4 linked regions of the Homo sapiens genome follow. The protein of the gene in region 1 purifies or fractionates together with the protein of each later gene. This does not show direct contact. Each region holds a gene or a part of one and is shown in the gene's direction. Other genes may lie near its edges. The genes, in order: CTDSPL2, KPNA1, STK35 and KPNA3.

The links.
Region 2: the proteins of CTDSPL2 (region 1) and KPNA1 purify together in Homo sapiens (affinity purification with mass spectrometry; 3 studies listed by BioGRID and IntAct, with this or other methods). This does not show direct contact.
Region 3: the proteins of CTDSPL2 (region 1) and STK35 purify together in Homo sapiens (affinity purification with mass spectrometry; 4 studies listed by BioGRID and IntAct, with this or other methods). This does not show direct contact.
Region 4: the proteins of CTDSPL2 (region 1) and KPNA3 purify together in Homo sapiens (affinity purification with mass spectrometry; 2 studies listed by BioGRID and IntAct, with this or other methods). This does not show direct contact.

Annotation. Positions count from the first base shown.
Region 1 is NC_000015.10:44,514,607-44,521,634, forward strand, and holds part of CTDSPL2 (CTD small phosphatase-like protein 2), read left to right. Parts: coding exon 1-54; intron 55-158; coding exon 159-238; intron 239-4,562; coding exon 4,563-4,689; intron 4,690-6,704; coding exon 6,705-6,800; intron 6,801-7,028. UniProt on the Homo sapiens protein: Probable phosphatase.
Region 2 is NC_000003.12:122,504,928-122,511,955, reverse strand, and holds part of KPNA1 (importin subunit alpha-5), read left to right. Parts: intron 1-7,028. UniProt on the Homo sapiens protein: Functions in nuclear protein import as an adapter protein for nuclear receptor KPNB1. Binds specifically and directly to substrates containing either a simple or bipartite NLS motif.
Region 3 is NC_000020.11:2,111,805-2,118,832, forward strand, and holds part of STK35 (serine/threonine-protein kinase 35), read left to right. Parts: intron 1-4,861; coding exon 4,862-5,574; 3' UTR 5,575-5,611; intron 5,612-5,882; exon of another isoform or gene 5,883-7,028.
Region 4 is NC_000013.11:49,782,681-49,789,708, reverse strand, and holds part of KPNA3 (importin subunit alpha-4), read left to right. Parts: intron 1-7,028. UniProt on the Homo sapiens protein: Functions in nuclear protein import as an adapter protein for nuclear receptor KPNB1. Binds specifically and directly to substrates containing either a simple or bipartite NLS motif.

The DNA of each region.
Region 1 (7,028 bases):
AGATTAAGACCATTTTTCAGGGAATTCCTGGAACGAATGTCTCAGATGTATGAGGTAAACATGCTTAAGCTAATTACATATGTATTTTTATTTTATTCAATATAGTACCCATATTTAGACCATGTATAATGATTACTTCTTTTCCCCTGAATTTATAGATCATTCTTTTTACTGCTTCTAAGAAGGTGTATGCAGACAAGTTACTGAACATACTAGACCCTAAAAAGCAACTGGTCAGGTAAATTTAATTAAGAAATAGTGGAAATGTCTGTCACACTGATCTATGAAATTACTGATTCTATTTCATTTTAATGGCCATTTTCAGTTGGCTGCATATGTGTTGAATGGTGAATATAAATGAATTTTTTAAGCCCCTAAACTCTTTAAAAGAGTTCCTAATGATGGAACTCCAGACAGACGTTCTTTAAAGGATACAAAGATCCAGTGCCTTTATTCACTGTGACATCTATATCCTCATTTCTTTTGGGATTGGGGAAGACGGGGGTTGGGGGGGTTGTGTGGAATTTTTCCACGTTGTGCATGATGTTTCATCTCCATATGTCTCTGAGGTAATGCATGTTAATTTACTTTTTAATGGCATAGAGAAATAAAAATTATTTTTTAACAGAAAGGATCAAATTAAGCCCTTGCTTTTTTTGAAAGCAAATTTATCTTCCATGGAAAGAAAATGTTACATGAATCTGATTGGAAATTACAGTGGGTTTAGTCACTCAGGTTATCCTGACTGGACTCAGTTCCTTGTGTGTGCCCTGAGCCAGCAGATGCAGTGTTTTCCTGGTTAGTGGGAGTGCCGTGGTGATTTTAAAATATTATGATAATTAGTTCCATTATTTTGTCAGCTGAAGTGAGATAGTAAGACTGCAGCAGTCTTGCTGTATCCTTTAAGAGGAGGGGTTAATCTTTGAATTTTTGATCAAAAGCTGAGAGAGATGACACAAACGGCTCATAAAAGCTTTAATAGGGCCAGGCGCGGTGGCTCACGCCTGTAATCCCAGCACTTTGGGAGGCTGAGTCTGGCTAATCACCTGAGGTCAGGAGTTCAAGGCCAGCCTCACCAATATGGAGAAACCCCGTGTCTCTACTAAAAATACAAAATTTAGGTGGGCGTGGTGGCGCATGCCTGTAATCCCAGCCACTCGGGAGGCTGAGGCAGGAGAATCGCTTGAACCCGGAAGGCGGAGGTTATGGTGAGCCGAGATCGTGCCGTTGCACTCCAGCCTGGGCAACAAGAGCAAAACTCCATCTCAAAAAAAAAGACTTTAATAGCTGGGTTGGTTGGTTGGTTCGTTCGTTCTTTCTCTCTCTCTTTCTTTCTTTCTTTCTCTCCTCTCTCTTTCTCTATTTCTTTCTTTCTTTTTCTTTTTTTTTTTTTTTGAGGCGGATTCTCACTCTGTTGCCCAGGCTGGAGTGCAGTTTGCAATCTCTGCCTTCTGAGTTTAAAAGATTCTCCTGCCTCAGCCTCTCGAGTAGCTGGGACTACAGGTGTGTGCCACCACACCTGGCTAATTTTTAGTGTTTTTAGTAGAGATGGGGTTTCATCATATTGGCCAGGCTGGTCTTGAACTCCTGACCTCAAGTGATCCACCCACTTTGGCCTCCCAAACTGCTGGCATTACAGGCGTGAGCCACTGCACCCAGCCCAGCTGAGTATAAATTTTCTTAAATACTTTTCCCATGTTGTCTTACTGGAAAATCCTAAAGTGTATTTTCTGCTGTTAACAGTACCTTTATTATTCAGTGGTTGCAAGTATACTGAAAGGCTTTTCCTAATGTTCATATTTTGGAAGGTTTTTTATTCTAAATAAAGCTGTGGTATCTTTTGTTTTTTAATCTAAAGGGTCAAAATAAGTAAGCTGCAGTCACACAAATGGGAAATGGTATTTTCTGTTCACAAAAGTATATTGTAATTTATGCTAATTTTACCTCACTTTACTAAAGTATACCCAGTGATTTTGTTTTGATGACTTCATTCATTATAATGATTTCTGTTCAGCATCTCCAGTATTCCAGGGAACAGTGGTGAGCAACACAAGCTCTTCCCTCTTGGAGCTTTCATTTACTAATGAGGAACAAATGATAGTCATGTTATGACAATGTGTTATAAATTAACAATCCTCTTTTAAACTAGATTTATAAAACCTACACACTTGAGGGTTTCCATTTGTTCTATCTAGATGTATTTTGAGAAATCTGAAACAAAAGCTTGTTTTTTTGTTTGTTTGTTTGTTGTTTGAAACAGTCTTGCTCTGTCACCCAGCCTGGAGTGCAGTGGTGCGATCTTGGCTCACTGTAAACTCGGCCTCCCAGATTCAAGCGATTCTCCTGCCTCAGCCTCCTGATAAGCTGGGATTGCAGGCGCGCATCACCACGCCCAGCTAATTTTTGTATTTTTAATAGAGACGGGGTTTCATCATGTTGGTCAGGCTGGTCTGGAACTCCTGACCTCGTGATCCGCCCACGTTGGCCTCCCAAAGTGCTGGGATTACAGGCGTGAGCCACCGCGCCTGGCCAACAAAAGCGTTTCAAAGAGTAGATTGTGAGTGCTATAGGGAATTGTCTGTGTTGGTGACAAGGTAGACTCTAAGAAATTCCTATGATCTAGGCTGAGTGCCGTGGCTCACGCCTGTAATCCCAGCACTTTGGGAGGCCAAGGCAGGCGGATCACGAGGTCAGGAGTTCAAGACCAGCCTGGCCAACATAATGAAACCTCGTCTCTACTAAAAATACAAAAAAAATTAGCTGGGCATGGTGGCAGGCGCCTGTAATCCCAGCTACTCGGGAGGCAGAGGTTGCAGTGAGCCGAGAGTCTGCCATTGCACTCCAGCCTGGGCGACAGTGGGAGACTCCGTCTCAAAAAAAAAAAAAGAAGAAAAAAAGAAATTCCTGTGATCTCTAAATCTCATGAGTTTCTAACACAAGTCTGTACTCACATGGATGATCTGCTCTTTGATGACTGGTACAAATAGTTTTTTTCTAAAAATGCAAATACATGCTATACACCCTCAGATTCCTGAATGAATAATTGGAAGGCTTTTACTGTAATTTAATTAAAATAACTGTAGTATCCACGTACAGATTCAGTTGTCTCCTGTCTCAATGAGTTTGCCACTATCGGTGAAGAGGCATCAACAGTGACTTGAATTTACATGCTGTATCTGCCTTTCCAGTTTCCTCATATCTAAATGTTTATAGAAATAAAACAGTGAATCTTATTTAGGCCCAACCAAGGCTTGAATTAATTTACTTAGTCTTTTTTGTTGTTGTTTTTTCAAAGTAGAACTGACTAAACTTTCCCGGGGCCAGATGATCGTTTGACTGTGATTATTAAAGTTATTCCTTATAATAAGGGGGAAAGAACTGCTTATACATTTTGTCTGTTCGTTAAATTCTTCCTTTTTGCCATACCAACTGGCACTGATAATTTTAAGGTTGAGTTTTTATTTGTGTGTGTATATGTAGATTTTTATTTATTCTTGGTAGCACTGTGACAGATTTTGTGGGTAGAAAATACCAGTTTCTTGAAATTGCATAATTTAAAATACAGGTCCAAATAGGTCCTAGATTTTGTAAAATTGTTAGTGTGATTAAGACACAAGGAAGACAACTTACCAATTATTAATATATACAGAATAGAGTACTTCAAGGTAGAAAAAAATTATATGAAACAATTATTAGTAATGTTCAGAGACTAGTATTTTGAGTATAAATTGAGATTATAATAATCACTTTAGTATTGTAAAACCTTTAATAGCTTTCTAAAATGATGTAGTATTTTTCTATGTGAGTGAAATATCAGTTTACATTTATAATACTTGATACTTAAATCTGAATTCCTCATTTCACTTAATCTTTTTTCAAATGATCATACACATATACTAAAAGAGGGGTGTTTAGGAAAAGTTGAAATGATGGAATGTTTTGGTCTTAGGACCTTTTCTCAAAAAAAATAAGGAAATCTAAAAAGCATTTTTTCAAATGCCAACACAAAAACATTCCTTCTTATATTTTCTATTCTGGCATGTACAGGGATAGGGAGGCTGTGTGGTCCACTGGTTAGAGCCAAGGACTGGGAGCCAGGAGGATCCTGGGTTCCAATGCGGGGCTAACCACTGACTTACTGTGTGACCTTGGGCAAGTCACTTGACCTCCTTGTTCCTCAGTCAACCATCTGGAAAATTGGTTAAAAAGCAGGACCTCGCTGACAACCAGATGCTGCATCTGAGCTGAGCTTTCTTGGGTAAATAAATTACAAAAACAATTTAGAGTTTTTAATCCCCCTTTATAATTTAATAATAACATTTTGGGATAAACTCAAGTTCTTTAAGGCATAGTAATATTTGGTTGTAAGCTTTCAGTAATTGCTTAGAATTTTTATAGTAAAATGGCAGCCCAACGCTTAGACCCATATTTGTGTTTGAATTTCCTTCAAGAGAGAAAATCATATGGCTTAAACTATAAAGCCTATGGTGTATATATATGTGTATATGTTCTACTTTTTAGAAAGTTTTTTTTTTTTAATTTGTTTTTATTTTTATGTTTAGGCACCGGCTTTTCCGTGAACATTGTGTTTGTGTACAAGGAAACTATATAAAGGACTTAAATATTCTTGGAAGAGATCTTTCAAAAACTATAATAATTGACAACTCACCACAAGCCTTTGCATATCAGGTAGGAAGAAAGTTGATAAACAAACTCAGATTGGAAAAAATACAATGAAGACACATGCTGCCAAACAGAATATGATGGGAGAAGAAGAAGAGAATTTTCACTGGTGGAATTTCCCTTTAATGTGTCATTTTTTTAGAATTAGAAATGACAAAGTGGTATATTCCTTTTGGAAAATTTTTACTTAAATGACATGCAGCATAAATGAAGAAAAACCTGAGTAAGAAAACTATAAGATAAGCATCATTGAATAGCATTCTTATCAGTTATTAAATCAGTAATTAGTAATTTAATCATAAACATATTTGAGTACTATAGTTAGTTTATGTTCTTCTGGTCTGGTTATTTGGTTTAATGTTCTGAAATATTTTCTTAGACTATTTTGTCAATATATTTGTACCCTTTGTTAATATTTCTTTGACGTATAACTACAAATGTAGATGAGTCATCCTTCCTTCCTTTTGTTTTTTTGTTTTTTTTTGTTTTTGTTTTTTGAGAAGCAGTTTCACTCTTGTTGCCCAAACTGGAGTGGAGTGCAATGGCGTGATCTTGGCTCACTGCAACCTCCGCCTCCTGGGTTCAAGCGATTCTCCTGCCTCAACCTCCCGAGTAGCTGGGATTACAGGTGTCTGCCACCACGCCTGGCTAATTTTGTATTTTTAGTAGAGACGGGGTTTCTCCATGTTGGTCAGGCTGGTCTCGAACTCCCGACCTCAGGTGATCGCCTGCCTCAGCCTCCCAAAGTGGTGGGATTACAGGTGTGAGCCACTGCGCCTGCCTGATGAGTCATCCTTTCAAGGTATATTTTAGATTATGAATATGTCCATGTGATATGATTTCTTTTTTCTTTTTTTTGTTTTCCTTTTTTTTTTTTTGAGACGGAGTTTTGCTCGTCGCCCAGGCTGGAGTGCAGTGGCACGATCTCAGCTCACTGCAGCCTCCACCTCCCGGGTTCGTGATTCTCCTGCCTCCACCTCCTTAGTAGCTGGCACTACAGGTGCGCGCCACTATGCCGTGCTAATTTTTTTGTATTATTAGTAGAGACGGGGTTTTGCTGTGTTGGCCAGGCTGGTCTCGAACTTCTGACCTCAGGTGATCCCACCTGTCTCAGCCTCCCAAAGTGCTGGGATTACAGTTGTGAGCTACCACACCCAGCCCCATGTGATAGGATTTCTTAGATTTGCTTCACAATAAGCCAGTCCAGAATAGGGATGATGCAAAGTGGATTGGAGTATAAACTAGATTTGTCCTGTGTTTCAAAATGTCTATAATAAAAAGAAAACAAGTGAAAAGCTGTATATGATACTAAGTTATATTTAGGTCCTTACTTTTATTTGTTTACATTTAAAAATGTCTTTTAAGAATTTCATCTTGGTTCCTAGTTAAAATTATATCAATTATCCTCCATCTCATATACAACATTTAGCCTAAATTTTAAAACATTTTATCCCAGAGATTATTCACCATAAAATAAATATGGCTTGCATTCTTGTTTTTAGGCTCCTCTTCAATGAAATACCATTAATTTGTTAAGTTTCTACTATATTTCAAGTTATCATCCTACTCGATGGGAATAGAATAATGAATGGGAGATATGGTCACTGTATTTAAGGGGAAAAAAAAGTATAGGCTTTTCTATATTCTCTTTAGATTGGCAGTGTCCCATCATTCACAGTGCCTACCTAGCATTGTACTAATTGTAACTATTTCTTGAAGGAATAATGGAATATTTTATTTATATTAATGATCCTTATAAAATGTATTTTAATGGAACTTTCTTGTTTAGTTTTATATACTCTGAGAAGAAATGACACTGAAAAACCAATAGGCTTCAATTTATTTCCTTATCCTCTGTCTCTTGCACTATTGAGTTGTCAAAGAAAAGTCTGGTGACATTACTTTTCAAAGGAACTTTTAGATCAGTGTTTACTTAATAAATCTTTGTTTATTTTTTAACTTTTTCCAAACTAGGTAAAATATAAGTAAAAGAGGATTTAATTACTTATTTATTGTTTTAGCTTTCTAATGGAATCCCTATAGAAAGTTGGTTTATGGATAAAAATGACAATGAACTCCTAAAATTGATTCCATTCCTGGAGAAGCTTGTAGAACTGGTAAGTGTAGCTTATCTTTTTCTGTTGTGTTTTTGTTAGCTCAACTATATTGAAATAAATATTTTTAAATGTCTTTGCTTTGTGTGTACTGACTTATAAAGTCAACTGTGAGCCAGGTCACAGGTGCCATCATAGGCGCCTGTAGTGCCAGCTACTTTAGAGTCTGAGGCAGGAGGATTGATTGAGCCTAGGAATTTGAGGTCATACTAGGCAACATAGTGAGACTCC
Region 2 (7,028 bases), on another chromosome or scaffold:
ATTCTTTGCATCTTCAGTGTTTTAGCACAGTGTTTGTTGAATTAATGATAAAATAGAGTTTTAATGATTTATGATGTCTGTGCTTTTAAGTCTACCAGATTGTTTTTAGATGTATGAGTACTGTGTATAAAATCAGTTAAGACCTTTGATTGGTCTTGCAAGTAAAGATGACTGACCTAGTGATAAAGATAACTCCTTGTTTTGTTTTAAGGTATCTTTGTACTTTGCATGGTGTTATGAATTTAGCCATAATAGGGAAGAAAACACTGGAAATGGTAAACAGTTAAATTAGCTGATTTGGGCTGATTTCTGTCTTTTGCTGCAGTAAGCAGGAGATGGCCTGAGGCCAACTGAGGGCCAGATAGGGCCTGCATTAGAAAATTTTGAGGTTGTACATTGGAAGAGTAGGGATGAAGACTGTGGGAATGTATGTTTCTTTCTTTCTTTTTTTTAAAGATGTTACAAACCTACAAAACAACATGAAAAAATGGTTCTGTCCAAGTGTTGTAGACTAATTGGGACAGTTCTTGAAAGCAGGCAGTAATCCAGAATGTGGATAATGGAGATAATCTCCTTCATATTAACAAGAATAATGCTGCCCTTCATATACAAAGATAAGTCTGCTTACTCATCATGATTGTTTTTCCAGCGTGAGGAGGGATATGTGCTGAGTCCATGAGTGCCTATATACTCTGTGAGCAACAAGGCAGGTTGGGGTCAGAATAGGCAGCTTGGGGTCAGAATAGGCAGCTTGGGGTCAGCTAGGGAACAGAAAGACCCGCTGAAAGTACTCTGACATCTATTGATGGGTCAGGTTCTGCATCAGGTGCTTTCACTTACTTGTTCTTGCAAAACCATTTTGAGGAGGTGATTACGTGTGCAAGGTGATTGGGTAACTCGCCTTACTTCACAAAGTAGTGGAGTTGGGATTCAAATAGGGCTGTTTGTACTGTGTTCACATTGATCGTTAAAGATTGGTTTTAGCCGTTCAGTCTCTTTGGCAGAACAAACTAGATGTAGTTTAACACCATGAAATAATACTGAAGATCTAATATAACCGTCGTGAGATTGTTCAAGTTCCTTGTTTTATCAACATTAAAAAAATAAAATTTTGGAATTAGAATACCTGAAAAGCAGCTGTTCCCTGTCCCAGCCTCTGCACTTGAAAAGCTACCATTTTCTTTCTTCTAGCTGTTTCCTCTTGTGTTTGCTTTCATATTTATAAATACAGTGACTTGCTTTTATTGCTATATCATGATATAGCAATTATAGATATTATTGGCTTTCGTCTAAGCAAGATGTTCCTTAGTGTTTCACATATATATTCACCTCACCTGCCATATGCACACACTGTCTCTACCATCCTCCAAATATAGTTATCACAGGTGTGTCTACTAAACCAATATTTAGTGTTTACAATATTGTAACTCTATAAATGTTCACAGCTGACCCATGTAGAGTACTGTGATATCATTTCTTCTCTTAATAAATTTTTGTTTTTCTACAAGTTAGTATTTTTTGTTGTTGTTTGCTTCATTTCCTGAGACAGCTAACCTGGAACCTCTTAATGCAATTAGGACTGGTTACTTTCTAGGCCTATTTCATAGTTGTTATCCAGGGACTTCTCTTTTCATCATCCTTAAACTTCTTTGCCCTCTTTTGTACTGGTTCCCCTGTTTACTGTTTCCTGTATTTTCTTTCTTGGTTTACTTATTTCCTTGGAGTACATTTTTTAGTAGCTTTCTGAGAAAGGATACATGGAAAACAAAAACTTCCTGACATCTTACATGACTGAAAAAAATCTTTATTCTTCCTTCGCATTTGATCAGTAATTTGTCTGGGTATAAAATTCTGAGTTGAAAGTAACTTCTACTTCAAGTTTGCAAGTCATAGTTCTATTGTTTTCTTTCTTCCAGGGTTACTCTTGAAATCCAAAGCCAATCTGATTCTTTGTTTGTATGTGATCTTCCTTTACCCCAATCTCTAGAAGCTTTTAGGATATTTTTAACCCTCAAAATTCCATGATGATGTGTCTAGGTATGGGTATTTTTTTGTTTAAGGGCATTCCATGGACCTTTATAAGCTGGGAGTTCATGTCCTTTAGTTCTCGAAAGTTTTTGTTATTATTTGGATGTTAGGCAAAAAGAATTTTAGAATGAATTATGCTTCTCAGTTCTTGTCACACATCAGATCGTACAAGGTCCTTTAAATTTTTATCTTAAATTTCTGAGCCCTACTTCTGTTACCTCTTTGTATAACATTGTGGTTGGTACATTCCTTGATTATATATGAAACATTGTAAAATATGTAGTGGAGCTGTGTATGTTTAGGTATTGTGTTATAGACCTTGCAAAGGTCTTTTTCTTTTTTATTCAACATTGATTTGGGGATCTTTCTGTTTTGTTGTAAGTATGTATAGTTGTGTCTAATGTAGAATTCTGTAATGCAGATCTACCACATTTTACTTTTCATTCCCTAGGAATTGATCCCTGAGTTGCCTTTCTGCTATTTCAAATACCCTGTGTTATATATACTCTTGTACATTATTATAGACCTGTATAGAAGTTCTCTAGGATATATACCCAAGATTGTGATTCCTTGGGCATAGAGTGGGAGAATTAGTGTATGTGCCTACTTGAGTGCTTGAGAGTTCTTTTTTGCTCACATGTTTGCCTTTACTTGGTTTTATCTTTCTTTTTTTTTTTTTTGTTTGATAGAGAGTCTTGTTCAGTTGCCCAAGTGAGTGCAGTGGCATGATCTTGGCTCACCGCAACCTCTGCCTCCTGGGCTTAAGCCATTGTTCTGACTCAGCCTCACGAGTAGCTGGGTTTACAGGGGCCCGCCACTACGCCTGGCTAATTTTTGTATTTTTAGTAGATACGGGGTTTCACCATGTTGGCCAGGCTGGTCTTGAACTCCTGACCTCAAGTGATCCACCCTCCTCGGCTTCCCAAAGTGCTGGGATTACAGGCGTGAGCTACCGCGTCCAGCCTCTCATTCTTATTTTATAGTATATTTGTGTTGTTTCATAGATGCTGTATTCTTTCTGGGGATATTAATGATAGTTTTAAAAATTTTGTTACCATTGTTGTCTTTTCTTTATTGAGGCTTTCCCCAGATGTCTGGTAGTCTTGTGGCTGTCCATTCATATTTAAGAATGAAGTGCCAAAAACTGAATTGGAAGCTCTATTAAGTGTGGCTTGTTGAAGGGTGAAGAGAGTAGCTGGTGGCCATTTTTTTTGTGGTGGGTGGAGGGCATATACTCATAGGTTTGTTTCTCTTGGGCTAGTCAGTTTCCCTGAGAGTCTCCAGTCTCTTGCCAGGAGAATGTGTGTCTGGCTGCCATGTTTTGAGAACTCATTTTAGAAAAGGAGCTTGGGTTTTTACTGTTGTGCTCATGTAATTCTGTTATCAATAAGGCACCTCACCCCCACCCTCACCTGCATTGGAGCACCCATTTGAAGGGATTACTGAAGGATGGTTGTCTGGTTGTGAAGAGTGGAGGAGGAAATCTGGGCATGTGATGGCTGTTTTGTAGACTTTCAACAAACCTTCTGATTTTGAGCCCAACTCCTCACTACCTTAAGGAGGGATAGTACCTGGATGATCTGTCTGAAGCATCCTGTTTGTGGGTAGGTAGTGTGAATCAGCTTGTTTCTTATTGCCTTCTTCGTTTGCAGGTTAGGCTTCAGAGTTTTCCACTTTGCTAGTGACATATAATTTGTCTATTTTATGGCTTCTTTTAGGTTTTGACACCATCTCTGATTCTTTTGCTTACCTATTCTCTTTATGCCGTGGTTCTGGTTCATTTATTTGAAAAAAAAATTTCTTTATAATTTTAGTATTCTACCATGTCTACCATTTTATTTCTTTACATAAACTCTTTGTTTTCTCCTCTGTTCATTTTTTCACAGCATTTGAATGACCACTGTGTGCCTATTGAAGATTAAAATTGAATTTCTGGCTTTGAGTTAATATGATATGGGAAGAAAAGTGCAGTCTATATGTGCTAATTCCTGATTTGAAATTTGAAAACCCTCATAAGTGTTCTTAAAACAGATATATTACAGTGGTTATTAAATTCATTAATGGATATGAATTGAATGAAGGCAAGTTTTTGCGATTAAAAATTTTTTTACTACTGAGGGAACGAACCCTTTATGTCATCTTCTGGAAAGATTTGTCTTTTTTTTTTTTTAACCCCCCAAAAAATCATTCAACTTTTAGATAAGAGATAATTTTTCTCCTTCATAAAGACCATAAAGATCAGAACTTCTGAAGAAATAACAGCATACTCAGTTGAAAAAATAGTAGTGAAAAGTATAGAAATTCAGTGTTTTAGGTAGGTTGATAAGCTTTATCATAGTAAACATATGCTTTCAGCTCTACTTTTTGAAAGTTTTTTTCTTGTATAATCAGTATATTGCTTATCACAGAAAATTTGGAAGATAAAATAATATTTCCATATTCAAATTTTATATGCTGATATCTTCTCTTTTCTTTTTTTTTTTTTTTGAGATGGAGTCTTGCTCTGTCGCCCAGGCTGGAGTGCAATGGCACAATCTCAGCTCACTGCAACCTCTGCCATCTGGGTTCAAGTGATTCTCCTGCCTCAACCTCCCGAGTAGCTGGGATTGCAAGCGCCCGCCACCACGCCCGGCTAATTTTTGTATTTTTAATAGAAATGGGGTTTCCCCATGTTGGCCAGGCTGGTCTCGAACTCCTGACCTCTGGTGATCCGCCCGCCTTGGCCTCCCAAAGTGCTGGGATTACAGGTGTGAACTACTGCGCCCAGCTATATTCTGATTTCTTAAGTTACGAAATATTTTTCGAAAGTATAGAGAATAGTGTAGGTTGGGTTTTTGTTCCCAGCATTCAGATTTTTCATGTTAGTGTTCTGTTTTCTCAATACATTGTGAACATTTCCTTTAACCAAGCCCTCATATTGGAACTTTTAGGTTTTTTACAATTTTTCACTAGAATAATCACACTGCAGTGAACAGTCTTACACATACTACTAGTTTTGTTTCCTTTATGTACATTCTAAAAGTGGAAGTATTCAATTCAGGGTTTGAGTTCTCCAGATCCTTGACAGATATTTTCCTTTAAGTGTTTTGATATTGAGAATGTCTTTGGAGAACTTCCCAGCTTGGGAACCTATAGATACTGGGAGTTGGGGGTCAGAATTTGGGGCAAAGGTTATGATAAACCTCTCAAAGGAAAACATTTGAAACTGGGCTGTGAAAGAAAATATGTATTGCCATTGGATTATTGGTTAGAGCTATAAGATGAGGCCAGAGATGAACACCTATGAATCATATGTCTGCCACATTGACTTCTCACAGGAAAAGCTTTATTGAAGGGTTTTTCAAACTTTGCTTTCATTGAACACTGAAATGCTCTTAATAAAAATAAAGCTACTCCTTAATTATCGTATAGGAAAAGAATGGGTAGGATATTTCAAATTTTAATTTTCTTTTCTAATTTCTATTAAAATATTTTAAACGGACCTACTATCGTTTGACTAGAAGCTGTTAACATCAATAATTTATATTTTCAAATGAACTGAACACTTTATACTTATACTCCACTTATTTAAATTCATAACTTTTTTGTAGTCATACTTTCTTGTAGTTTTGGTTTTTAATAGTAAATGCATATCATATACTTTCTAATAAAATTATGCCTGATTTATATGGTGGAATTAAGTATATTAGGATTTCAAGTTGTTCCACAAGAGTATTATGGATTTTAAATATTCAGAACATTTAGAATGTGTTTGAGATTTACTGATTAGGTGGGCTGACCCAGTGCACTGAATATATAACATCTTGAATATAATAAAAATATAAAAAGATCTACACTCATTGTTTTGGGTTTAGAGTGGTGGAGAATGGTATTGAATGAATCCAGACAAAAGGATCTTGCAGGACCAAGAAGTTTAGACTTGTTCTAAGAAGTGGTTAAAAACGTTGTAGTTCCTTATCCATTGAAGTGATACAGTGAAAAGGGTGTTGAGATTAATCTGAGGGCTGTGTAGGATGAATTGAGGAGCAAAGAGTCTGAGGTTAAGAATGCTGGTTTAGAGCTGTTGTAGTTATCTAGGTGTCAGTTGACACAGACTTGAGCCAGGCTGGTGGCAGTGGGAATAGATCGGATCAGATAAAATCAAAGACTTTGGATAGAATAAGCAAAATTTGATAATTGAGTAACTAGACATGAAGGAGAAAGTGAGGGGATCTGTCTTTGAAAGAGTGTGTTTCTATTTCACCACCAGTATTGCATCTTGTTTTTAAGTTTATTGCTTCTTTGGCTTTATTTCTCTAGAAAACAAGAGGAAATTTAGGTATAATGGCTTTAATTTTGAAGGCTTCTGATTCCTGAGAGGGTACTTTGAAAAGTAACTTACAATTTTTAATTAGTAGCTTAGGTGATAACACCTAAAAATATTTGCTTAGGATAAACTAATTTTCTCATACAATTACTTTGTTATTCCTCTTATTACAGACATAGAGATTTATTTCCTTTCTTTCCTATCAAAGCTATCTTCAGTCCAACTTCAGCCTTCATTTTCAACTGTATTTTACATTGTTTTAAAATAAAACTTTTGCTCTACTATAGTGATTTTCAACTGCAGATGCATATCAGAATTTGCTTGGATTTTTTTTTTTTTTTTTTTTTGAGGCATGCAGTGGTACAATCCTGGCTCACTGCAACTTCTGCCTCCCGGGTTCAAGCCATACTTATGCCTCATCCTCCCAAGTACCTGGACTCACAGGTGCATGCCACTATGCTGGCTAATTTTTGTATTTTTAGTAGAGGCGGGGTTTCACCATGTTGGCCAGGCTGGTCTCGAACTCCTGACCTCAAGTGATCTGCCCGCCCCTTGGCCTCCCAAAGTGATGGGATTACTGGTGTGAGCCACTGTGCCTGGCCCACTTGGGGATCTTAAAAGGAAGAAAAACCCAGAGGTGTCTGTCTGCTTCAGACACATTAATTAGACTCTTTAGAGGGACATTTGAGGCTTG
Region 3 (7,028 bases), on another chromosome or scaffold:
AAACTCTTCTGTGATTATCCAGACTACTCGTGTCCCTGGCGCACACCCACCTGCTCCTGTGCCCACTCCCCTCATCCTGGGAGACGCAGCTGCAGGGCCTCTCGCAGTTATTCTCAGCCTGCCTTCCTCTCATCCCAGCTTCTCTCCCAACTCTTCTGGCAGATCCGGGCCCGCTTCCTAGTTCTCACAGCTGTAGTCATTCTGCTTCTAATGACCAGAAGCCTATGTAAGGGCAGGGATGCCCCTCAGCTCACCGCACCTCTGTCTCAAGAGCAATGTGTGCTCAGAAATTGTTGAAGTGGCGTTGACTAAAACCTGGAAATCTAACTTCTGGAGAAGGCTTAAGGATAGGCTTGTAAAAATCTAGAGCATTTTGTATTTCTTTACAGGAAGTGCCTGTCTTTCCAAAGCTCCTACTGGCTTGTCTTTATGCTGAGCCTGCTGGCCTCACGTTTTTCAGCGAAGCAAGCCATGTTTTTATTGGGAACTTAAGCACTACTGATGAATTTCCATGACTAATGAGATGCAAGACACCTGCTTGGTTTTGTTCTTGGGTTTACTTTAAGCATCTTCTCTCCCTGTGGACTGTGGCATAGGATATGTTTTGAAATACATAATTTATATTATGGTCACCTGACTGTCAGACTTGAGGGAAAGGTAGTAAAACTGTCCCCAAAGGCAGGCCTGCCTCTCTTGGAAGAACACTTTTTAGCCCTCTGTGAGCTGGGAGACAGCATGGTCTGGGGGGAGGACTTGCTGTGGGGGTTCTCTCCTATCCCCCCCAGTTACTCATGGTAAGGGCCCTCGGGCAGACTCTGAAGCCTTTCTCAGCCTTAGTTGCCCCACCTGTAAAACGGTGCCTGGTAAGATGAGATAGCTCACATAATAAACTTTTAAAATAGTACCTGGAACCCAGTAGGCTTTCACAGGCTAATTTACCTCAAATCCTTACTATCTCCAAATAACCTGCCTGTTTTCTCCCTCTCTGGGAAGGAAGCTAAATTTGTAACTCTTATTAATCTTATACAACTGTCAGATTATACCAGACAAGGGAATTATAAAACTTAAGTAAATTTTATTTGTTCCTCTCAGCTCAAAAAACTGAATTTCATGTGGGGATTTTAGTGGTTGCTGCATATATCTATTCCAATTATATATCCTGAAACTGGGGAAATACCCGCAGTTGTGGGTGGGTCGGGAGCCCACTGTGAGATGGGCCTGAGCTGAAACTCCATGGATCACCTGCCCTCCATCAGTCCTGTTCTGACTGGTGGACCACAGTGACAGTTTGGTTCTTTGGGAATTAGTGTCTTTTTGGAACTTGTGTTCAGTAATCCCCTAAAGTTTGATTACTTTCCCTTCCTCAATGCACAGGCACCTTGGAAATGACTGCAGGTCTCCCTGGGGAGGCCGGAAGACTGAGTAAGAAATCTAGTCCCCCGACCTCAAAACATCTGCAGAATGTGCCAGCATTTCTCAGGGTTAAGTAGAAGAGTTAAGCCATAGATTGCTAACCAGAATATCTGGTATAATTTAATAAAAACTAAAATAAAAATATGAAACTAGGGCCTTGGCTGGTCAGAAGAGGGAAGTTACTGGGAAATCAAGTGAGTATAAGATAGACTGGTGTTGCAGCTAGCCTTAAGGTGCACATTTCAATTGTACCTGCAGAGATTGTGGGGGCAGCAGGCCTAGGGAGAGGGATCACTTCAAATAGGAATAGCCTGGTCTGCCTAGAACATGGGTTTCAGCTGTTACAGCCTAAGAAGTGTGATGTCTTAGATGGAATAATACACTTTCATTCTAAGATCTAAATTTCATCTTTTGCCTAACATGTAAAAACTTACTCTTACGGCCTACAGCACTGGGATTATTGAAATCGGTGACTTCCAAGGATTTGGTTGGGGTTGAGTGGGAATGATGATGTTAGTGATGGTCAGTGGTTCATTTCCCCAAAAAGATCTTACATTCTGCCAAATGTAGTTCCTATCTGACTTAAGTCACAGTACTCATGTGGTATAGTTTCATTCTCTCATTTGATAGATGTGAAGACTGAGGTACCAAAAAGACTGAGGCTCAGAGAGCTTCAGGGACTTGCCCAGGGTTCCAGCCATCTTTTCATCACACCTCAGTCTCCCTGTGTTTTCCTTGAAACAAAGAATCCACCCAGTGAGGCAGTGGTCAGAGTTGGGGTCTGAACCCAAACTCTTTGTTTCCTGGTCTGTGTTTTTCCTGTTACTTCACCAAGTGCCTCCGAGTGCCTGGCATCATCCACGTCGCCTCCTTCCATCTGGTCGTGAGGTAGCTGAGACCCCGTTAGACAGTCTGCTTGGAGTAAAGGACTAGAATTCTGACATGTTTGTTTTCTCCCGGGAGTTCGTGTGTGAAAGCATACGCTGCAGCTTCTCATGAAAGAAGTCCAGGGGCCTTTCCTGCGCAAAGAAGTACTTTTGAGGCCAGGTGCTATTGAGAAGCTGGGACTATTGAGGCCACTGCACCCGGCCTCAAAAGTACTTCTTTTGGAAGTACGTTGGGAAGCCAAGGCGGGAGGACCACTTGAGCACAGGAGTTGGAGGCTACTGTGAGCTATGGTCACACCTCTGCACTCCAGCCTGGGTGACAGAGTGAGACCTTGACTCGTAAAAATAATAACACTTTTGTATCTGGGACAAATAGCTGCACTCCCAGTTTTCCATTCTGTCATACCCACTGTTACTGGGTGTGATTCTGAGAATACTTCTTCCTGTCCAGAATTTTCCTCTCAACAAACAGCCCCTCCTGTAGCATCTCCTGAGTCTAGCTCCTTCCTCAGAGCAGCTCCTCAGTCCGAAGGTCCAGTCTCCCCCAACCACTCACAAACTTTGGGTTCTTTTTTTACCATTTTTTCTTTCCCTGGATTCTCATAACCTGGACTTAGATTATAGTCTGTTTTGCAGACTTGTTTTCTTTTTCCTTAGGTTGCCATAGTTACTAACTTTGTATATAAAATAACCATCATTCCTCTTCCTTTATTCCCCCACCAGAAGTTTCAGTGTTTTCTGATGTGGCCTTTGCAAAAGGAATTGGATGGCTTTTTGATCTTTTCCTTTCTGGTTCTACCTGTAGTACACATTTCTTGCTCTCCTTTTTGTGGGTCTTTAGCATCTGGATTGACTTGGGCTTCAGATTGATGCTTCATTGTGCAGTATTTTTACATAGAGGGCCTCTGCCCATGACCTAGATAGAGGATTATGAGAGGGGAAATAACTGATTTGAAAAGAACAAAAAACATCTGCCCTAAACTGGTTCTACCTGTATTACTTTGATTGTGAGTAATATAAGCAAATAAATTATATAATTACAAGGGAAGTGAGGGCTATCCGATTGTGATCAAAAACCTAAAGCTTTTGTTTTGTGTGTCACATCATCTTGGCTGAACCCAGAACTCTCAGACCATTGGCTTTAGTAGACTGTGAGCCTTGGTAATTTCAGGCTGTTGGGGTTAGCAGAGCCTCACCTAGATCACTCGTTTTCTTTGTAATAGAGTAAATGACTAGTAAAAGGAACCCTCTGCCAGAAGCTGTCTGAGGAAGTGCAGTCATTTTTGGTAGGATGCATACTCCATACTGGGGCCAGAGAGAGGACTTCTCTTCAGGTCCTGGCTCAGTTACAAATGACCTTGTGACCACCCAGAACAAGCCAGCACATTTGCAGGCCCAGCCTCTCCTCATCAGTGAGATAAAACATCTGCCTTCTTACACTTAGCTTTGGGAGCAGTTGTAGTCATCACATAACATCCACATAAAGATTCACTGGACTGTCAGTTGCTTTATAAAGAACATTGAGATTTGCTTGGAGAGGTTGGTCACCAGCTTTCCTAGAGTTTCAAGCCCACACAATTTAAATCTGTCTTGTACATCGACTTTAGACTCCACTGTTCCCACCAGACTTCCAATTTACACCTTTCTGGTCTTTTTGTCCCTGTGTTCCATCATCCATTCCATCTTTCAGCCTAGAATTACCTTCCTGCTCCCCCACTGATCTACTGCCTGCCTTTTACAGGGTAAGTTCAGTCCTGCCCCCTCTGACACCTTCAGATCTGGCCACTCCTGCCCCCCCCTTCACTGTTTATATGAGTTGACCCTGATGGAGATGTACATTCAGATCTGGCGACTCCTGCCTCCGCTTCACTGTTTGTAGTAGTTGAGCCTGATGGCGATGTACAGCTTTTGATGGTTGCTGCTGTGGATACCTGTCATCTCCTTGAAACTAAGCCTCATAGAGGTGGAGGCATGTTATGTACCTAACTTGTGCTAGGCATGTGGTGGGCTTGCAGAAAATATTGATGGATCGGACTGTGCCTCTGAAATAAACCAAGGAAATTGTAGGAGTGTGCCTCTGAAATAAAGGAAATTCTAGTGCCATTCTAGGTGCATTAACAAGAATCCTTCTACAAGTCAGGAAAAAAGAGAGGGAAGGTCATTTGCTCAGCATGGAGTAACAATGATATTAGAAGCAACAGACCCGTGACAGCCTTCTTGCATGCTTTCCCTTGTCCCATCTGCCCAGCAGCTTTGGGAGGTGTGGGTGGTATGGCACTCCCTGTTTGGAGACAGTATAATGAAACAAAAAGGCTTCGCAGTCAACCAGACGGCAGTAAACCCGAGTTTCCACCTGGGCCTCATTCCAAACCCAGGTACCTGACACCAGTCCCTGGTGCCTGTGTCATACCTTAGAAAGGCACTCAGTGCCAGTTGTGCAGGTCCCCTTGGAGCAGTTGTTTGTCACCAATGTCACTCTTGAATACACTGCATCCTTTAGTTAAAAAGAAGTGTGACTGTGTCCATCTCACTCAAGCTCCTTCCTGTCTTCTTTGATTTAGGAGAAAGGATCCTGGGTTATGCTGAGGAGCCCTGCTATCTCTGGTTTGTCATGGAGTTCTGTGAAGGTGGAGACCTGAATCAGTATGTCCTGTCCCGGAGGCCAGACCCAGCCACCAACAAAAGTTTCATGCTACAGCTGACGAGCGCCATTGCCTTCCTGCACAAAAACCATATTGTGCACAGGGACCTGAAGCCAGACAACATCCTCATCACAGAGCGGTCTGGCACCCCCATCCTCAAAGTGGCCGACTTTGGACTAAGCAAGGTCTGTGCTGGGCTGGCACCCCGAGGCAAAGAGGGCAATCAAGACAACAAAAATGTGAATGTGAATAAGTACTGGCTGTCCTCAGCCTGCGGTTCGGACTTCTACATGGCTCCTGAAGTCTGGGAGGGACACTACACAGCCAAGGCGGACATCTTTGCCCTGGGCATTATCATCTGGGCAATGATAGAAAGAATCACTTTTATTGACTCTGAGACCAAGAAGGAGCTCCTGGGGACCTACATTAAACAGGGGACTGAGATCGTCCCTGTTGGTGAGGCGCTGCTAGAAAACCCAAAGATGGAGTTGCACATCCCCCAAAAACGCAGGACTTCCATGTCTGAGGGGATCAAGCAGCTCTTGAAAGATATGTTAGCTGCTAACCCACAGGACCGGCCTGATGCCTTTGAACTTGAAACCAGAATGGACCAGGTCACATGTGCTGCTTAAAATTCAGGGCTAAGCATTTTGGGTGATTTTAAACTAGGTGAGTGCTCTCTGTTGTTGTTTTTTGTTTTTTGTTTTGAGACAGGGTCTCACTCTGTTGGTCAGGCTGGGGTGCAGCGGGTGCAGTGGCAGGATCTCAGCTCACTGCAACCTCCACCTCCCGAGTTCAAGTGATTCTCGTGCCTCAGCCACCTGGGTAGCTGGGATTACAGGCACCTGCCATCATGCCCGGCTAATTTTTGTATTTTTAGTAGAGACGGAGTTTCACCATGTTGGCTAGGCTGGTCTCAAACTTCTGACCTCAAGCGATCTGCTGGTCTCAGCCTCCCAAAGTGCTGGGATTACAGTTGTGAGCCACCATGCCCAGCCTCTCTTTTTTTTCTGTATGCCCACTTCTTGGACCGGGTTCTTCATTCTGGACCCTGGCATGGGCCCTGTGAACTTGCAGGGGAATACAAAGTTGAAGAAAATGAAGTGCTTCTTTTCAAAGATCCCCCCCATATCTTGATGGGAGAAACGTGCAATTATCTGAGTACACGTTGGAAAGTCTAGAGAAGTCTTCTCAGAGGAGGTTGCGTTTAAGCCGAGTCTCCCTTTTTTTAGAAACGCTCTTTCTCATCATTATAAATGCTCACTGTAGAAAATGTGCATAAGAGGTAGACAGGTTTTCAGAGAATAAACACTATCTCTGATTGTATCCCACCTACTCACACATCCGGTTCCACATAGTTTAGATCTTGCCCTAGTTGGTCAAGGTCTTTTTCTTTTTACTCATTACTAATCTGAGCATTCCTCCATGTCATACTTTAGAAGTATGGCTTTTCAGGGACTGTATGACATTCCCATTATATGTACCATAATTTAACCATTCTCCTACTTTAGAAAACAGATTTTTTCCATTTTAGATACTATAAAGAATGTATTAGTGAATATTTATGTAGAAGTCTTTGCTTATTTAAAAAATTTATTCCAAGGTGGGCGGATCACGAGGTCAGGAGATCAAGACCATCCTGGCTAACACAGTGAAACCCCATCTTTACTAAAAATAACAAAAAAATCAGCCAGGCGTGGTGGCGGGCACTTGTAGTCCCAGCTACTCGGGAGGCTGAGGCAGGAGAATGGTGTGAACCCGGGAGGCGGAGCTTGCAGTGAGCTGAGATCGTGCCACTGCACTCCAGCCTGGGCAACAGAGCGAGACTCCGTCTCAAAAAAAAAAAAAATTTATTGTGAGTTTTCCTTTGTGAAGTACAGTCATGCTCCGCATGAACAACGTTTTGGTCAAAAAGGAATGGCCTATATGACGGTGGTCCCATTAGATTATAATGGAACTGAAAAATTCCTATTACCTAGTGATGTAGCTGTTGTAATGTTATAGTGCATATTATGGTGTATGTGTTACCTTTTCTGTGTTTAGATACACAAAAACTTACCATTGTGTTACAACTGCCTATAGTATT
Region 4 (7,028 bases), on another chromosome or scaffold:
GATTTAGGCATATCTAAGAGTAGATAACCATGCTTAGTCTTGTCCATTAGAAACAGTACAACTTAGCTCTGTAACTGAGTAGTTGTGGTTATCAGGCTGTTCCAAAACAGTGAGATGCACTTTGATAAGCTATGATGCCTATTTTTTCACATATAGGATAGACAAAAACTAAAACATGTTATAAATTATAGAAGCAGCTGATACACAAGATGTTAGGTGCAAGAATAAGATCCATACTTGTTAAAGAAAATAAAAGGATAGAGTTATGCCAGGGGATTTGAGTAGAGAGAGGGTTGAGGAAGAAAATTTCTTTGTCATTCAATCGAGAGAGACTTTAAGAGATCTTTGGAGAGGAAAAAAAAAATGAGGTTAGTGAATCTTATAGGAAATATGTACCAAACTTAAAAGGGGCATGTTAACTGGTGAATAAATATCCAGGTAAAAAAGAAGAGTGATTATATTAAAGAGAGGAGACTTCCAGGTGGCCTGTGTTGATGCAAGAATATCTTGTGGCAAAGAGTTGCTTGGAAGCTTTTTCTTAATAGGGAGATGTGAAGGAATTTATTCCAGAGCAAAGAGGAGATGTAACATGATTAGAGCAATGGAAAGGGTGACAGGGCAGTAATACCTAGAATTCATTTTGGAGAAATAGCGCTGTTGTCTGATCTGCAAAGAAGAGTTTTCCAAAAAATTGAGACTGGGAATGGCTACAACCTGGAATGAGGATTTGATGATGCTGTTCTTCCTCCCTCTTCCTCCTCCTTCAAATTCTCTTTATAAAGATCACTGAAGAGAAAGGGAGTAAAGGTTATTCTGAGGTTTATAAATGGAGGAAGGGAGGGAGTAATTATCATCACTGATAGAAATTTGGAGCTTGGGTAGGGGATGCATTTTGTAGCAAAAACTAGGAAGTACATATTGAAAGGGAAACATTTCCTTTTATTTGTTCTGGAATGTGCTTTTTTTTTTTAAAAAAAAAAAAAAAAAAAAAGAGGGTCTGGCTCTGTCGCCAAGGGTGGAGTGCAGTGGCCCAATCTCGGCTCACTATAACCTTCGCCTCCTCCCAGGCTCAAGCCGTCCTTCCATCTCAGCCTCTTGAGTAGCTGGGACTACAGGCACATGCCACCACACCTGGCTAATTTTTGTGTTTTTTGTAGAGACGGGGTTTTGCCATGTTGCCCAGGCTGGTTTCAAACTGCTAGCTCAAGTTATCCTCCTGCCTTGGCCTCTAAAAGTGTTGGGATTAGGGGCATGAGTCACCATGCCCGGTCCTGGAATGTGCATTTTAATGCTAGACCTTTTCATGTAAGGCATTGATTCTTAAAAACTTTTCCTGTTTTCAAAGATAACTTATAGAAAAGTGTGCAAAACAGAAATGTTCTGTTTAATGAATAATTACAAAACAAATGCTCAGGTAACTGCAATCCAGGTCAACTCATTTTCTTGCTGCTGTATACCTCAAGGGTGTGACATTTTCATTAGTAACAGTAATTAATTATTTTAAAAACCTTAACATTTATTGTTTACAGTATATCAGTGCTAAGTACTTTATATAGATTATCTATTTAATCTTCACAACAGTCCTATATCAAGTAAGTACTATTATTATCCCCATTTACTGCTGAGGCAACTTGAGGCCTACAACCCTTAAGTAAGTGGCCTTAAGTCTTCCATCGGGTGTTAAGTGGCAAAGCCTGGACTTACAATATATCAAAGCTTTATGCTAAGCGGCTGGGCGCAATGGCTAACGCCTGTAATCCCAGCACTTTGGGAGGCCGAGGCAGGTGGATCACCCGAGGTCAGGAGTTCGAGACCAGCCTGGCCAACATGGTGAAACCCCGTCTCTACTAAAAATACAAAAATTAGCCGGGCATGGTGGCGCGTGCCTGTAGTCCCAGCTACACGGGAGGCTGAGGCAGGAGAATGGCGTGAACCCGGGAGGCGGAGCTTGCAGTGAGTCAAGATCGCACCACTGCACTCCAGCCTGGGCGACAGAGCGAAACTCCGTCTCAAAAAAAAAAAAAAAATACAAAAATTAGCCGGTCCTGGTGGCTCATGCCTGTAATCCCAGCTACAAGGGAGGCTGAGGCGAGAGAATCACTTGAACCGGGGAGGCAGAGGTTACAATGAGCTGTGGTCATGCCACTGCACTCAAGTCTGGGCGACAGAGTGAAACTCTGTCTCAAAAACAAACAAATAAAGCTTGATGCTAAAGCTAGAACTCTTGCTTACTGTGCTGTACTCCACCGAAGGGAGTCTAAGACTTGACATGTACAAACCACGCCTGAAAGTTAGTGAATGGGGAAAATATTGAAGAAATATCGACTATATCACAGAAATTGCTATTTCTATACTTTAAAACCTTGCAAATTTTTGATGAACTTTACTATTAGATTTATTTGCCTTTTTATCTTTTTACTCTTGCAAAGTTTCCTTCTTATCAGCAAGGAGCCAGTTGGTTGGTTTTACCAAAAAATGATAATCCGTATCTTTGGGCTTAACACTTAAGCTTTATGCTTTAGTTTCTGATACCAGGGCTAATATATATTTTCTCACCTGCAAAATTCAGTTAGCTCTACCAGACTTGCTTCTGTCTCTGGAACCTCCAGTGCTAAGTGGCACTATCTGATTGTCCAAGTTTAAGATTCTATCCTTGACTCCCTTCTCTTCCCCTCCTTCACCCTTCTTTGTATTAGTTATCTGAAGAACCCTCATGTTTGTACCTGTTACCAACCTTACTTCCTCTGCCCCTAGTTTAGACCCTTATCTTTGTTGCCTGAACAAGTATAATAGTGTACCTAGCTCTTCTGTGTTCAGTATCTTCTCTCCCCAGTGTATCTTGTGGATTGATCTTTCTCATATCTTTCTGTGTTACTTTCCTGTTTATGATCCTTCCCATTGACTTCAGGATAAAAGTCCTTAGCATGCCACACATAGTTGTAAGACCTTACCTTTTTTACCTCACCTTGCACTTTTCCTTATATCTCCTTTGTGCCAGCTGTGATAAAGTACTGGAGATGCTTGAGTAACCAGTAGTTTCTTCTTCATGCCTTTGTATATGCTGTTCTGTGTGCCTTCTTTTGACTATCTGTTGAGTTGGGGTTCACTCTGGCAACCTATCTCTTCAGTGAGACTCCTTCATATATCTCTGGAACACCAAGATTACAATTCTGCCACACCATGTCATTCTAGTTAAAAACCAAAAACAAAAAAAAACTTTAAAAGTTCTCCATGAGCCTTTCCTGACTTACAGTATACTTGGTACTATCAGTCCCTATTCTTTTCCTCCTCTCTAGTGTTTTCCTAGGTGAATTTTCCTTCACCTATTTGGGATAAATTGCTGTGATGTACAACAAATTCTGTGTTTGTATAGCTATTAAAGTATTTGGGCTCTGTTGAGAAGCTCAGTGAGAATAGATACCTTGGATGTAACTTGAAACATGAAACTTAATGAGAAGAGAGACTAGATGATATACCTGAAAAAAGTCTACATTTGGGAATGAAAGGTTCAGTATTATTCTAAGACATTAATTTTCTTTTGGTGTTGACTCCATGGCATTGATACTGTTGCCTAGCCCTCCTTGAACAGCCTGTTCTCCTATAATGTATTTCTGTAACATGAACTCGCTCATACTTGAATGGTTAATAAAAAAATGTTAAGGCAAAGTTCATATTGGTTCATATGTGATTTTTAGTATCACATTAATGTTTAGCACTCTTAAATAACAACAGTTGAACATAAAGTACAGAAACAGTTGAACGGATCAAGCCCAGGAGTATGCATATTGGCCATGCACCCATGTTCTGCCTCTTGGCTCTGTTTAACCATATGCAGTGTCTAAAGGTGCTTAACGACCATCCATCCTGTGCATTTCCCTCTTCTTCCTAAGTTTGGAGAGTGTAAAGTGTTTCAGGAATCTATATGCCATATAGCAAACAAACTTTTTTTTTTTCATGAATTCACTAATGGGGCATATACTGCTTCCTGGTTCTCTTGGAGTACTCTTTTTCAGTCAGCTTTGGTAAGTCTTCTTCCTACCCTTTGAATGTAGTAGGCATGGCTTGGGATTCTGTCTACGATTCTTTTATCTGTAGACTGTTTTTCTTGCTCATATCAGCAACTCCCTTGGCTTTAATCATCATTTCAATGTGCGGGGACTTAAATTTCATAAAATCATCTGCTGGAAATTATTCACATGAGCATCTTTTTAGCTTCTCAAGCTCAAAGTGTTTAAAGCCATGTTCTGCCTTTGTTTTTTCTTTTTTCTGTTTATGGCATCATCACCCTCACTGTGACCTGAATTTGAAACTTGAGAGGCTTCTTGGACTTCTCCTCTTCCACATTCAGTCAGATGCCAGTTATGTAGCTCGAATCTCTGTGCTGTCTCTGGATTTTGGCCCTGCCTCTATATTCTGCTGCCTCCAGCCTACTTTAGGCCTTATTACCTGTCACCTTCCTGTTTAAAAACTATCTCCAAAGTGGTTTTCTTCCTTTAGTTTATGAGATTTTTCAGTGAGCCTGATGCCTGATTATTTCTCCAGATTCAGCCTTCCTCCCCCACCCCCTTAAGCCCTAGCAACACTGAACTTCTTATATGCTTATACATAATCTGGAATCCCGCCTGCCCCTCCTCGCCAGTGCTATTTCTATTCTCAGGGCCATCTTGCTGACTGGAATATCCTTCTCTGCCTCCTGTTGCCTGGCTAATTCCTACCACTTTTAAATACTCAACTCTGGGTAGGTACCATTCTTTGCTCCTGGAAGAAGTCTGAGTGTATCTTTCTCGTTGCAATTATGATAATGTATTTTAATTAGATTTTATTTTTCCTACTAGATTGTGAGCTTTTTGAGGGCACAGACTATGTATCTTCATTGCCTACCACTTAGTACAGTGGCTAGAACCAAGCAAGCACTAAAATATTCCTTGAATAAATACATCGTAGGCACCGCAGACACAATAATTTTTCCCATGTGTATTTTTGAACTGAAATGTTTACTCTTTTAGTGCCTTTTCCTACTGCTTCCCAAATCAACTCCAAGCTTTTTATTATGACAGGTAAAGTTCTGGGAGATTAAGGTATATACATAGTGAATGAATTAGTGATTAAGGCTAATTTGTATGGCTAAGTAACATTCTATTGTATGTATATACCACATTTTGTTTACCCATTCATCTATAGATGAATACTTGGATTGTTTCCAACTTTAGTCTGTTGTCTCCCAACCATTTAAAAATGCCACTAATTTGTTCGGGTCAGTTTTCTTTTATTAAATTGCACTATATGAAATTGCTTTTTTCCAGGTTTGTAACAACAGCCAAGTATTGGCAATTTCATATTTAGCCTAATAGACTGTCCTAATTACTGGGTTTGTCTGTTTCCTTCTGGTGGTGCTTAACTGGTTCCTCTTATTTGTTTTTTTACCACCCTTCAGATTTTTTGTAATCTGGAAGTTTTTTTAAAAAAAAATTTTTAAACATTATTTTTGAGACAGAATCTTGCTGTTACCTGGGCTGGAGTGCAGTGACACGATCATGGCTCAAGCGATCCTCCTGCCTCAGCGTCTTGAGTAGCTAGGACTACAGGTGCACACTACCATGTCCAGCTTATTTACTTTTTGTAGCGATGGGGTCTTGCTGTGTTGCCCAGGCTGGTCTTGAACTCCTGTCCTCAAGCAGTCCTCCCTCCTCAATCTCCCAAAATGCTGGGATTATAGCCATGAGCCACTGAGCCCAGTCTAAACTGGAAGTTTGATTTAAAGTCTTGATTAGCTTCAAGTTAAGCTTCTATTAATTTATTTAAACTTCAGTTGGTGGTAGTGTGTACCTTAGAATATATCTCAGTAATGATAATAAGAATGATCGTAGGGTTCAGGTGATAAAGAACAAATAGTTTAATGCCATCAATGTGAAAGTTACTTAACAGTTTGTGAAGTGAATTTTAGTTATTTGGGGGAAATGGGACATGAAATTGATGACATTTCAAGAAGTGGAAAAAAAAGTAACTTCTTGGTATCCAGTAAAGGAGTTACAAAGTGTATATCTAGAACTTCTAACTTCAGAGTCAGTAGGATTTTCTTTCTATGACTGACACCACTCCTCAGTTGACCTTTTGTTTAGTTAGCATACGGTTTGGCTGTACAGCTGGCCCTTTGTAACCTGTGGATTCGTAGGGCTGACTGTACTGTGCCATTTTATAGAAGAGATTTGAGCATCTGCAGATTTTAGTATCTTCGGGGGAGGGAGCATCTGGAGCCAACCCCCCCGAGGATACAGAGGGAGGACTGTATTCTCATTTTCAAGTGGAGGTGAAGGAATATTAAAAGTATAAGGAGGATGTAGCTATCCTTTCTTGCAGTTTTGCTGTTAAGAAAAATTTTCTTACAGCATAGCCAACATCAGCAGTTAAAATATGGTAAAATAAATCATGACTATATTTACTTGGAATTAATCATTCTTGGTTTTCTGGGTTAGGGAGGTTGTATACATACTAGATTTTACTTTATTTTGACACTTGCCTTAAATAGAATATAATTTAGTTGTTTTCTTGGTTCTTGAGAATCACCATTATGCATATGGATATTGGGTTTTGCTTTTACATAAGTGATGCCTTCAGGTTGTTAAATTAACAGAATTTTCTTCTTGATTTTTACGCTTGTGGAGTTTTTGCTCTTCTTAATTTTTTTGGCTTGTCCTTCCCTTGCTTTTGGTCTATCAGCTTTCTTTTGATACTGTCAGCATATTTACTTGTGGTAGCCCCTATGTTTCTTTTTATTTGATGCTTTACATATTCTAGTGACTTGGGAAACAGATTTATTAAACATTTATTTAGCTTTTTTTTTTTCTTTGAGACAGGGTCTTGCTCTGTCACCCAGGCTGGAGTACAGTGGCACAATCACGGCTCACTGCATCCTTAACTTCCCAGGCTCGAGTGATCCTCTCAAGTAGCTGGACAGGTGCACGCCACCACGCCCAGCTAATTTTTTTATTTTTTGTAGAGACAGGGTTTCGCCGTGTTGTCCAAGCTGG